3 linked regions of the Homo sapiens genome follow. The protein of the gene in region 1 purifies or fractionates together with the protein of each later gene. This does not show direct contact. Each region holds a gene or a part of one and is shown in the gene's direction. Other genes may lie near its edges.

Region 1 (3,500 bases):
TTATTTGAAGAGATGTGTGGGAGCTTATCCGCACACACCAGTTCAACTCTGGAGAGAAAAAGTAATTATCTAGTGTTTATTATTAATGTAATATTCTGTATGGATAATTCAAGTTTTAAAAAATCTCCAGAGCATCTCTTCCATGGGAGATTAATGTATATATTTTTTAAATTCTTAGCATAATTGTCTAAACCTCCATCTAAAGTCACCTTTTAACTATGTATGTACAGATTGTCTTTTACCTATTTTCAAACTGTGGTTAGCTCTTTTTTTTTAATACATCAGTGGCTTATACAATTTCATAAATTTCACATTCCAATTTCCCTATGCTTTTAAAATAATATTTTAAGAAAAATATATGTTTATCGTCAGCTGGGCATGATGGCTCATGCCTGTAATCCTAGCCCTTTGAGAGGCTGAGGTGGGAGGATCGCTTGGGGCCAGGAGTTTAAAACCAGCCTGAGCAACATAGCAAGACCCCACCTCTATAAAAAAAAATTTTAAAAAGAAAATGTATGTTTGTCAATCATTTCTTAGTTGCTGTTTTGCTAAAGAAAAGATGAAAAATTTAAAACCAAATGAGCTATATCTAAAGGTCGTCTAAAGAGTAAGAACCAAACTTTACTGAGCTGTTACTAAGAGCATCACATGCATGAGTTATTTATTAAATTCTCATTGAAAAAAATAGACTATCTTAATCAATACACTTGTGAGGGCCCTAAGGGTGTCTTTATATGATTATAAAATAACAAGGCTATTCACTAAAAATAGTCAATTTGGAGGTGGAAGTAAGAGTAGGGGCAGAGGAAACGCCAAGGACTGATAGAAATATATTAAGTTACATCACAATTGAAGAACATGGCTTTTAGCCTCAGCTTCTGACTTGGGATTTTCTCTCTGGTAGCCCTAAATTGATCTTGAGAAACTTGTTTTGGGGGAGAATTGAGTAGTAGCTGTTGAACTAGGGAGAGGATTGTCTTTTATGGGATGCACCATCCTCTCTTTGGATGGAGTTCCTCACACCTCAATTCCCATCTCATCTCATTAAGTGGATGCTAATGTAAGTTCAGTGATGAGGAGGGGTAAGAGCTGGGGAAGGAAGGCTTGTTGGTGTTTTTATGTTGTCCTCCCCTCTGCCCCCAAAATAAGCAGTTCACAACATCAAATACCTACACAAATGTGCAATTATTTATAAATATATTTTTACATACAGTAAGTTTGATACACTATAGTTAGGCCATCTAGGTATAAATAAGGAAGTAAAGGTTGGGTATTATCTGATGAACTGGGAATCTTTTCCATGGTACTTGAATCTAATCACTTTAGTGCCTGCATAGACTCAGACTGTAAAGATGTTACATTAACCAGGGTTAATATCAACTGCTGCTCTTCCCCTTCAGAGCCCTAGCCTTCCCCGATATTTATCATTCTTGAAATAAACACGATTTTAAACAGGCTATTTCTTCTTGTAATAGTGTCCTTGTCTACAATAAAATTGTGTGGTGCAATCGGAGTTAGAACATCGTAGAACTAGGGGACAACCACACAGTTGTGTTTTTTCCTTTTTTTTTTTGTTTTGTGTTTTAAATCTTAACCTGCAACAACCTAACAGTGAACTGAATGTACAAGCATGATACCTGATGCAGTTCTACAAGAATCCTAACCCTCATTAGGATCTCATTTAACAAATTCAGGAAGCTCTTTGTTAAAAAGCCTTTTTTCTTTTTTCTTTTAAGCCTGTCAAATTTAGCAGTGGGGGTTGCAAAGAGCCTTTTTTCTTAATTTAGCTCTTTTGCCTGCTCAGGAATCATTTGAAGCATGTTGTTTCAACAAACAGTTCTCTGTTTCAGCAATTGTCACTTGAAAATTTAACAGTATGAGAATGAGATGATGACAATAGTTTTTTACTGTGAAGTTTCCTTTTTAATTAATTTGAAACTTTAGAAATTTGAGATATAACTACAATTAAGAGAATCCCAAAGAGACAGAAAAAAACAAACTTTTTTTTTTTTTTTGCACAGTATCTTTCTATTTTTTGTGGAAGCCCCATTTAATTCATTTAACATGTAGCTATACCCCAATTAATTAATTCTTTTCTTTTCTTTTCTTTTTTTGAGACGGAGTTTCACTCTATCACCCGGGTTGGAGTGCAGTGGTGTGATCTCTGCTCACTGCAGCCTCCGCCTCCCGGGTTCAAGCAATTCTCCTGCCTCAGCCTCCAGAGTAGCTGGGATTACAGGCACCCGCCACCACGCCTGGCTACTTTTTTGTTGTTGTTGTTGTTGTTGTTGTTGTTGTTTGTCGTTTTTTTCTTTGAGACGGAGTCTCGCTCTGTCGCCCAGGCTGGAGTGCAGTGGCGCGATCCCGGCTCACTGCAAGCTCCGCCTCCCGGGTTCACGCCATTCTCCTGCCTCAGCCTCCCGAGTAGCTGGGACTACAGGTGCCCGCCACCACGCCCGGCTAATTTTTTTGTATTTTTTTTATTTTTAGTAGAGACGGGGTTTCACTGTGTTAGCCAGGATGGTCTCTATCTCCTAACCTCGTGATCCGCCCGCCTCGGCCTCCCAAAGTGCTGGGACTACAGGCTTAAGCCACCGCACCCGGTCTACTTTTTTGTGTTTTTAGTAGAGATGGGATTTCACTATGTTGGCCAGGCTGATCTCAAACTCTTGACCTCAGATGATCCTCCCACCTCGGCCTCCCAAAGTGCTGGAATTACAGGTGTGAGCCACATCTCTTACTCTTTCAAGCACTGGGGATACAGCAGTGAACAAAGCAAACTCCCTCGTATTGTTCACATTCCAGTTAAGGAAGACAAATAATAAATCCTTCTCATGGAAGGAGGTACATAGTAATCAGGCAAATATTTACTATATCAAGTAGAGAGAAAGTCTATTAAAATAATAATTTTTTAAAAACCAGGGCAAAGGGAATAGGAAATGACAGGACTGGGGAAAGGATGTTGCTATTTCATATTTGGTGGTCAGGAAAGTTGGCTGATGAGGTGAGACCTGCAACAAGTGAGGACGTGAGCTGCGTGGATGGAGCAGAGCTCATCAAACCAAGCTGATTGTTGGTTTGTTTTCTCAAGATTGACTGATTACTCGGAGTATAGGTTGGCAAGTAGGGTGACCAGGCTAATGACATGAAACCTAGCAAACTGATGATGGCTGAGATCAAGCTAAGGGTGGCTGTTTTAAGTGCGGAGGAATAGACAACTGAGTTCACTCAATGACATTTACTGGAGGGGCAGAGGTTATTATAAAAGTGAAAGAAAACATTACAAGGGTTTGCATTTGAGTTTTTGGGCATGAATATTTTTGGGTGTTAGTACATTAGACACACACATGATTTCCCTTTCCTCCCAAAAAATCCATTAAATGATTTTATCGGGAACTTCCATAGACATTTCCTTATGTAGGTTTAGACTCTGATTTTATTCTTTCAGATATTAAAGTCCTTCACCTTCTCTTTTCTTTCAATCATAAAAAGATGCTGGA
Region 2 (3,827 bases), on another chromosome or scaffold:
AAAGAGACTGTTTTTCCCCCAAAGTATGTTCTTGGCAACTTTGTCAAAAATGAGTTTACTGTAGATGTGTGGACTTGTTTCTGTGTTCTCTATTCTTTTCCATTGCTCTATGTGTCTGTTTTTATACTAGTACCATGCTGTTTTGGTTACTATAGCTTTGTAGTATAATTTGAAGTGAGGTAATGTGATTCCTCTAGTTTTGTTCTTTTTGCTTAGGATGGCTTTGGCCATCCTGCATTTTTAACCCTTTTCCCATTTTCACCCAGAATACTCGCTGGTGGCACTTGCAGCTGCAGGGTTTACCCTGAGATAACTTTGCCACAAAATATCTCGCCTTTATTATTATTTTCACATCGTTCTAATATATCGACTTTGAAAACACAAATCATCATTCTATTTATAGCATCTTGTTGTTAGCAGTGGTATTTCCATTTACAAAATATAGAAATTCTTGATCGCTGAAAATGTCAAATTCTAGAAAGCATAGCATTCCCATGTTAACATTGTTCTCAAACAGTTTTGGGCCAAAGAGTCATTTAATGAATCCGGTTTTTTCCAAAATAGATGATTCTGATTATTCAGATGATTCTGATGTTAGTTCTGTTTAAAAATAATTCCAAGAACAGTTTGTATATTTTATTTTCACACTGAACATCAGTCAGCCTCCAGAGCATGTTAATGTAAAATTAAATGAACATGGGCAGTGAGCTGCAGTTTTTTTTCTAAACAGTGCAGCTGTTTAGAAAATTTTTTTAAAATTTTCCTGATTTCCTTGGTATTAAACATATGTGGGAGAAATACAGCTCAGCAAACTCTTCCAGGAGATAAAATGCTGATCACTCCTACTGGGCAATTTCACAAATGTCTCCTATATTTTTCTCCTTTGGTAGTGGGGATGGGGGGCATAATGTTACATTGGGCCTCTCTCCTCTCTCTCTTTCTCTCTCCCTCTCCTTTTAAAATGTTTCCTCTCTCTCAATATTTCATTTCTTATTTGTATTTCTGAATGAGGGAAAAGAGTTGATGGGACAGCGGAACGGGAAAAAGAAGAGCACCAATAAAACCTGTTTTCCTGTTTTCACTATTTTCATTCCAAATTCCTTCTGTCTCATAATTGATGGAATCTTATGAACTTATTAGTTAAAAAGTGTCTTTCTTGTTTCACAGGAATTCATATCGGGGTGATCACTCAGAAGAAAAGGTGAATACCGGATGTTGTAAGCTATTGAACTGCCACAAGTGATATCTTTACACACCATTCTGCTGTCATTGGGTATGTACAAAGTGCTGCATACAGACAGAGGAGAAGGACAATTGAGCCCATCTAAAGTTAACAAAAACTTCCTCTTGGGGCTGTTTCTTTCCATCAGACCTTACAGTTCTACGGGATAATAGCTTATCTCATAAGGCCTCAGCTTTCTTTAATAATTTCTAGAAGCAGACGTTATTGTGTCATGCACACTCAGTGTTGCAAATTAATGGTCTGGTGATCTGGGTGGCATGGCATTTTCCCCTTCTCTGGTTCATCACCCATGATAGACCAGTAAAGGTGACCACTTAAATTCCTTGCTGTGCAGTGTTCTGTATTCCTCAGGACACAGAGCTTCCTCTCTCCCAGGAGCCATGAATATCCTGATGCTGACCTTCATTATCTGTGGGTTGCTAACTCGGGTGACCAAAGGTAATGGAACCCTATAAAGCAGAGATGATGACTAGGATGAGTTGTTGCCCTTGGGCTCCCCTGGTATCATGATGGGAAGAGAGGGAATCTGCAGGAAAAATCTGGGCCAACAAAGAGCAGCAGAATGCTCTTATTTTGGCAGCTCCATGCCCCTAGTCTCTGAGAATCTTTCTGTTAGGGGCATCTAGCAAGCTGGGATGTCCTCTGAGGCATTTCTCCAAAGACAAGAATTTCCTTAATGCTCTGAGCCACCCTATCTGTCTCTCTACATAACTATCCAATGTTAGTTCAGCCTCACTTCACTTCCATTTCGATTATTCTGTTGTATCTATTTCATTGTTGTGTCCTATTAGTTCTCCTACCATCTTGAATTCTTCTTTGCCCGGAGGGTACCTTCAGAGGGAGGCCCTCACTTTCATGTTCTTAGATATGGTGAACAAGTCCATTGACAGTTTGTAGATTCTGTAGCACTATCATATGGAAGAGACAATATATATGTTTGGGGTAGAAGTGGAAATAAGTGGAGTGAAGACAGGATAGACAGACTAGTGACCAATGGGGAGCTTCTAATTTTAGATGAATAGGAACAGTCTGTTTCCACTATTTAATAATGCTACTTTTGAAAATTGTTAACTTTTTATTAAAAAATAATACTTGCAATTGACTTATGTATCAAGCAATCGATGGATTTATAGGGTTTAAGGAAAAGAAAAATGTTTGTCTGTCCAAGAATACCAGTTCTTCAGTCTTCCCCTTCAGAATCAATCAATGTTACCAATTTCTTATATATCCTAGCAAATACAAATATATTTATATTTGCATGTGTATACCTTTTAGATTTTTAAAAAATGCAATTGCAAATGCACCATGTGAATTGTTCTGCAATGTACTAGCAATATATTAGAGACATCTTATCCATACATAAACCTAGTTCATTATTTTTAATCGATAAGTAAAACTTTGAGGAGGAGCAGATGAATTGCCTCACATTAATTACTCCGCTACTGATGAAAAATAGGTCTTTAATTATCAAAAACAATTCAGCAAGAAAAATTTGTAAACAAATGTATGTCTTTTCATTTATGACTGGACACGTGGACACACACACACACACACACACACACACAGTCAAACCACCTACCAGAAAAGCTGAACTATTCTTCTCTCCTATCACCAGTTGCAAGAGTGTCAGCTTCCCACACCCTCATCAGTCCTTTTTGTTTTTTCTACTACATTCAGTTTTCTACTACATTCAGTTTTACAGTCTAATATGTGAAAATGATGTCCTGATGTTTGAATTCATGACACTTTAGTTATAAATGAGTTTGAACATCCAGTCCATTAGATTTCTAAACTTTCTTAATTATCTTTATATACTAAGAAATTTGGCTTTTGTTAAATTTGGAGGTGTTATATGTTGCCTAGAAAGATGCTATTCATGTCTATTAAATGGTTATAACTGTGCCTATGATCTGTTATGTCTTGATTCACATGTTGATGTAATGTGAGTTACAGAATTAATATCTACATTCATTTCTGATTATAAACTGCTGTATTTGTTGAAAATTTGGAAATTTTGAAATTGTAAAGAAGTAAAAAAATTGTAAAGAAGTTAAAAGAGACAAAATATTTTTGATCTATTGTTCTTCCTCAGTTTTCTTATTTGAATAAAAATGTATAGCATACTTATAAATTTTCTATTATACTATTAGTATTTTCCCATTTACTATTTTCAAAAACTGTATTTCCAATGACTGTATAAATTTTATAGAATGGATACTGTTTAAATTACTTAGCCAAATTGTTTTTGCATAAATAAGTGCATTTACATTTTATAGACAAGGATGGCTAGTATAACCTTTCTTATACATAAATCATTCAGCATAAAATTCCTGGAGATGTACTTTTTTCTGTCTGCTTCATGTGTTATCAATTTTTGAATACTTGCCAAGTCCTAAAAATGAAATATTATATATAAATATTTAATTTTTATTTATGTCTGTGAGTAATGGGGAAGTCGAACTTCAAATACATGCTTAATGTATATTTAACTTTTCTACAAATTGTCTATGTCTCTCTTTCTCTTTTATTTTGGAGAGGTAGTTTTCATTTCTTTTGATTTAGAGATTTTCATTTTTGTGTTCTC
Region 3 (3,727 bases), on another chromosome or scaffold:
TTTCGCTGTGTTGGCCGGGCTGGTCTCCAGCTCCTAACCGCGAGTGATCCGCCAGCCTCGGCCTCCCGAGGTGCCGGGATTGCAGACGGAGTCTGGTTCACTCAGTGCTCAATGGTGCCCAGGCTGGAGTGCAGTGGCGTGATCTCAGCTCGCTACAACCTCCATCTCCCAGCCGCCTGCCTTGGCCTCCCAAAGTGCCGAGATTGCAGCCTCTGCCCGGCCGCCACCCCGTCTGGGAAGTGAGGAGCGTCTCTGCCTGGCCGCCCATCGTCTGGGACGTGAGGAGCCCCTCTGCCTGGCTGCCCAGTCTGGAAAGTGAGGAGCGTCTCTGCCCCGCCGCCATCCCGTCTAGGAAGTGAGGAGCGCCTCTTCCCGGCAGCCATCCCATCTGGGAAGTGAGGAGCGTCTCTGCCCGGCCGCCCATCGTCTGAGATGTGGGGAGCGCCTCTGCCCCGCCGCCCCGTCTGGGATGTGAGGAGCGCCTCTGCCAGGCTGCGACCCCGTCTGGGAGGTGAGGAGCGTCTCTGCCCAGCCGCCCCGTCTGAGAAGTGAGGAGCCCCTCCGCCCGGCAGCTGCCCCGTCTGAGAAGTGAGGAGCCCCTCTGCCCGGCAGCCACCCCGTCTGGGAAGTGAGGAGCGTCTCCGCCCGGCAGCCGCCCCGTCCGGGAGGGAGGTGGGGGGATCAGCCTCCTGCCCGGCCAGCCGCCCCGTCCGGGAGGGAGGTGGGGGGGTCAGCCCCCCGTCCGGGAGGGAGGTGGGGGGGGTCAGTCCCCCGCCCGGCCAGCCGCCCCGTCCGGGAGGGAGGTGGGGGGGTCAGCCCCCCGCCCGGCCAGCCGCCCCGTCCGGGAGGGAGGTGGGGGGGTCAGCCCCCGCCCGGCCAGCCGCCCCGTCCGGGAGGGAGGTGGGGGGGGTCAGCCCCCCGCCCGGCCAGCCGCCCCGTCCGGGAGGTGAGGGGCGCCTCTGCCCAGCCGCCCCTACTGGGAAGCGAGGAGCCCCTCTGCCTGGCTAGCCACCCCGTCCGGGAGGGAGGTGGGGGAGTCAGCCCCCCGCCCAGCCAGCCGCCTCGTCCGGGAGGGAGGTGGGGGGGTCAACCCCCCGCCCGGCCAGCCGCCCTGTCCAGGAGGGAGGTGGGGGGGTCAGCCCCACGTCCGGGAGGGAGGTGGGGGGGGTCAGCCCCCCGCCCGGCCAGCCGCCCCGTCCGGGAGGGAGGTGAGGTCAGCCCCCTGCCCGGCCAGCCGCCCCGTCCGGGAAGTGAGGGGCGCTTCTGCCCAGCCGCCCCTACTGGGAAGTGAGGAGCCCCTCTGCCGGGCCAGCCACCCCGTCCGGGAGGGAGGTGGGGGGCTCAGCCCCCCGCCCGGCCAGCCGCCCCGTCCGGGAGGGAGGTGGGGGGATCAGCACCCCGCCCGGCCAGCCGCCCCGTCCGGGAGGTGAGGGGCGCCTCTGCCCAGCCGCCCCTACTGGGAAGTGAGGAGCCCCTCTGCCTGGCCAGCCACCCCGTCCGGGAGGGAGGTGGGGGAGTCAGCCCCCCGCCCAGCCAGCCGCCCTGTCCGGGAGGGAGGTGGGGGGTTCAGCCCCCCGCCCGGCCAGCCGCCCTGTCCGGGAGGGAGGTGGGGGGGGGGGTCAGCCCCCCGCCCGGCCAGCCGCCCCGTCCGGGATGGAGGTGGGGTCAGCCCCCCGCCCGGCCAGCCGCCCCGTCCGGGAAGTGAGGGGCGCCTCTGCCCAGCCGCCCCTACTGGGAAGTGAGGAGCCCCTCTGCCAGGCCAGCCACCCCGTCCGGGAGGGAGGTGGGGGGCTCAGCCCCCCGCCCGGCCAGCCGCCCCGTCCGGGAGGGAGGTGGGGGGGTCAGCCCCCCGCCCGGCCAGCCACCCCGTCCGGGGGGTGAGGGGCGCCTCTGCCCGGCCGCCCCTACTGGGAAGTGAGGAACCCCTCTGCCCGGCCAGCCGCCCCGTCCGGGAGGGAGGTGGGGGGGTCAGCCCCCCGCCCGGCCAGCCGCCTTGTCCAGGAGGGAGGTGGGGGGGTCAGCCCCCCGCCCGGCCAGCCGCCCCGTCCGGGAGGTGAGGGGCACCTCTGCCCGGCCGCCCCTACTAGGAAGTGAGGCGCCCCGCTGCCCGGCCAGCCGCTCCGTCCGGGAGGGAGGTGGGGGGGTCAGCCCCCTGCCCGTCCAGCCGCCCCGTCCGGGAGGTGAGGGGCGCCTCTGCCCGGCCGCCCCTACTGGGAAGTGAGGAGCCCCTCTGCCCGGCCACCACCCCGTCTGGGAGGTGTACCCAACAGCTCATTGAGAACGGGCCGGGATGACAATGGCGGTTTTGTGGAATAGAAAGGGAGGAAAGGTGGGGAAAAGATTGAGAAATCGGATGGTTGCCGTGTCTGTGTAGAAAGAAATAGACATGGGAGACTTTTCATTTTGTTCTGTACTAAGATAAATTCTTCTGCCTTGGGATCCTGTCGATCGGTGACCTTACCCCCAACCCTGTGCTCTCTGAAACATGTGCTGTGTCCACTCAGGGTTAAATGGATTAAGGGCGGTGCAAGATGTGCTTTGTTAAACAGATGCTTGAAGGCAGCATGCTCGTTAAGAATCATCACCACTCCCTAATCTCAAGTACCCAGGGACACAAACACTGCTGAAGGCCGCAGGGTCCTCTGCCTAGGAAAACCAGAGACCTTTGTTCACTTGTTTATCTGCCGACCTTCCCTCCACTATTGTCCTATGACCCTGCCAAATCCCCCTCTGCGAGAAACACCCAAGAATGATCAATAAAAAAAATAAAAATTAAAAAAAAAAAAGATTTGTTTCTTTTTCTACTTTTTGAGATGGAGTTTCATTCTTGTTGCTCGTGCAATGGCATGATCTCAGCTCACTGCAACCTCTGCCTCCCGGGTTCAAGCGATTCTCCTGCCTCAGCCTCCCGAGTAGCTGGGATTACAGGCATGTGCCACCATGCCTGGCTAATTTTTGTATTTTTAGTGGAGACGGGGTTTCACCATGTTGGTCAGGCTGGTCTAGATCTCCTGACCTCAGGTGATTGACCCACCCCGGCCTCCCAAATTGCTAGGATTACAGACATGAGCCACCATGCCCGGCCCAGAGTTTTTTCTTTTTAAAAACTTTTTATTTTGGAAAATTTCACATATACATGAAAGTAGAGAGAATAACATAAATAAATAAGGTGAGTTTTAAACATTTTTATTATGGGAAAATTTAAACTTATGCAGAAATACAGAATACTGTAACAGCATGAGTTTTTAAAGGATACTTCTTTGATTTTTAAATTTTTGTAGAGATGGGGCCTCCCTATGTTGCTCAGGCTAGTCTCAAACTCTTGGCCTCAAGCAATCCTCCAGCTTTGGCCTCCCAAAATGCTGGGATTACAGGCATGAGCCCAGCCAGAAACTTTGGTATTTAGGAAAATTTCAACCAGAAATAAGAAATAAATAGTATAAAGAACCCTGGCCGGGCGCGGTGGCTCACGCCTGTAATCCCAGCACTTTGGGAGGCCGAGGCGGGTGGATCATGAGGTCAAGAGATGGAGACCATCCTGGCCAACATGGTGAAACCCCATCTCTACTAAAAATACAAAAAATTAGTTGGGCGTGGTGGTGGGCGCCTGTAATCCCAGCTACTCGGGAGGCTGAGGCAGGAGAATCAGTTGAACCCGGGAGGCGGAGGTTGCAGTGAGCCGTGATTGCGCCACTGCTCTCCAGCCTGGCAACAGAGTGAGACTCTG

Evidence for each region.
Region 2: the proteins of GJA1 (region 1) and DEFB125 purify together in Homo sapiens (affinity purification with mass spectrometry, with the first as the bait; one study listed by BioGRID). This does not show direct contact.
Region 3: the proteins of GJA1 (region 1) and DEFB124 purify together in Homo sapiens (affinity purification with mass spectrometry, with the first as the bait; one study listed by BioGRID). This does not show direct contact.

What each region holds. Positions count from the first base shown.
Region 1 is NC_000006.12:121,438,646-121,442,145, forward strand, and holds part of GJA1 (gap junction alpha-1 protein), read left to right. Parts: intron 1-3,500. UniProt on the Homo sapiens protein: Gap junction protein that acts as a regulator of bladder capacity. A gap junction consists of a cluster of closely packed pairs of transmembrane channels, the connexons, through which materials of low MW diffuse from one cell to a neighboring cell.
Region 2 is NC_000020.11:86,087-89,913, forward strand, and holds the start of DEFB125 (beta-defensin 125 preproprotein), read left to right. Parts: upstream 1-1,585; 5' UTR 1,586-1,623; coding exon 1,624-1,681; intron 1,682-3,827. UniProt on the Homo sapiens protein: Has antibacterial activity.
Region 3 is NC_000020.11:31,468,499-31,472,225, reverse strand, and holds part of DEFB124 (beta-defensin 124 precursor), read left to right. Parts: intron 1-3,727. UniProt on the Homo sapiens protein: Has antibacterial activity.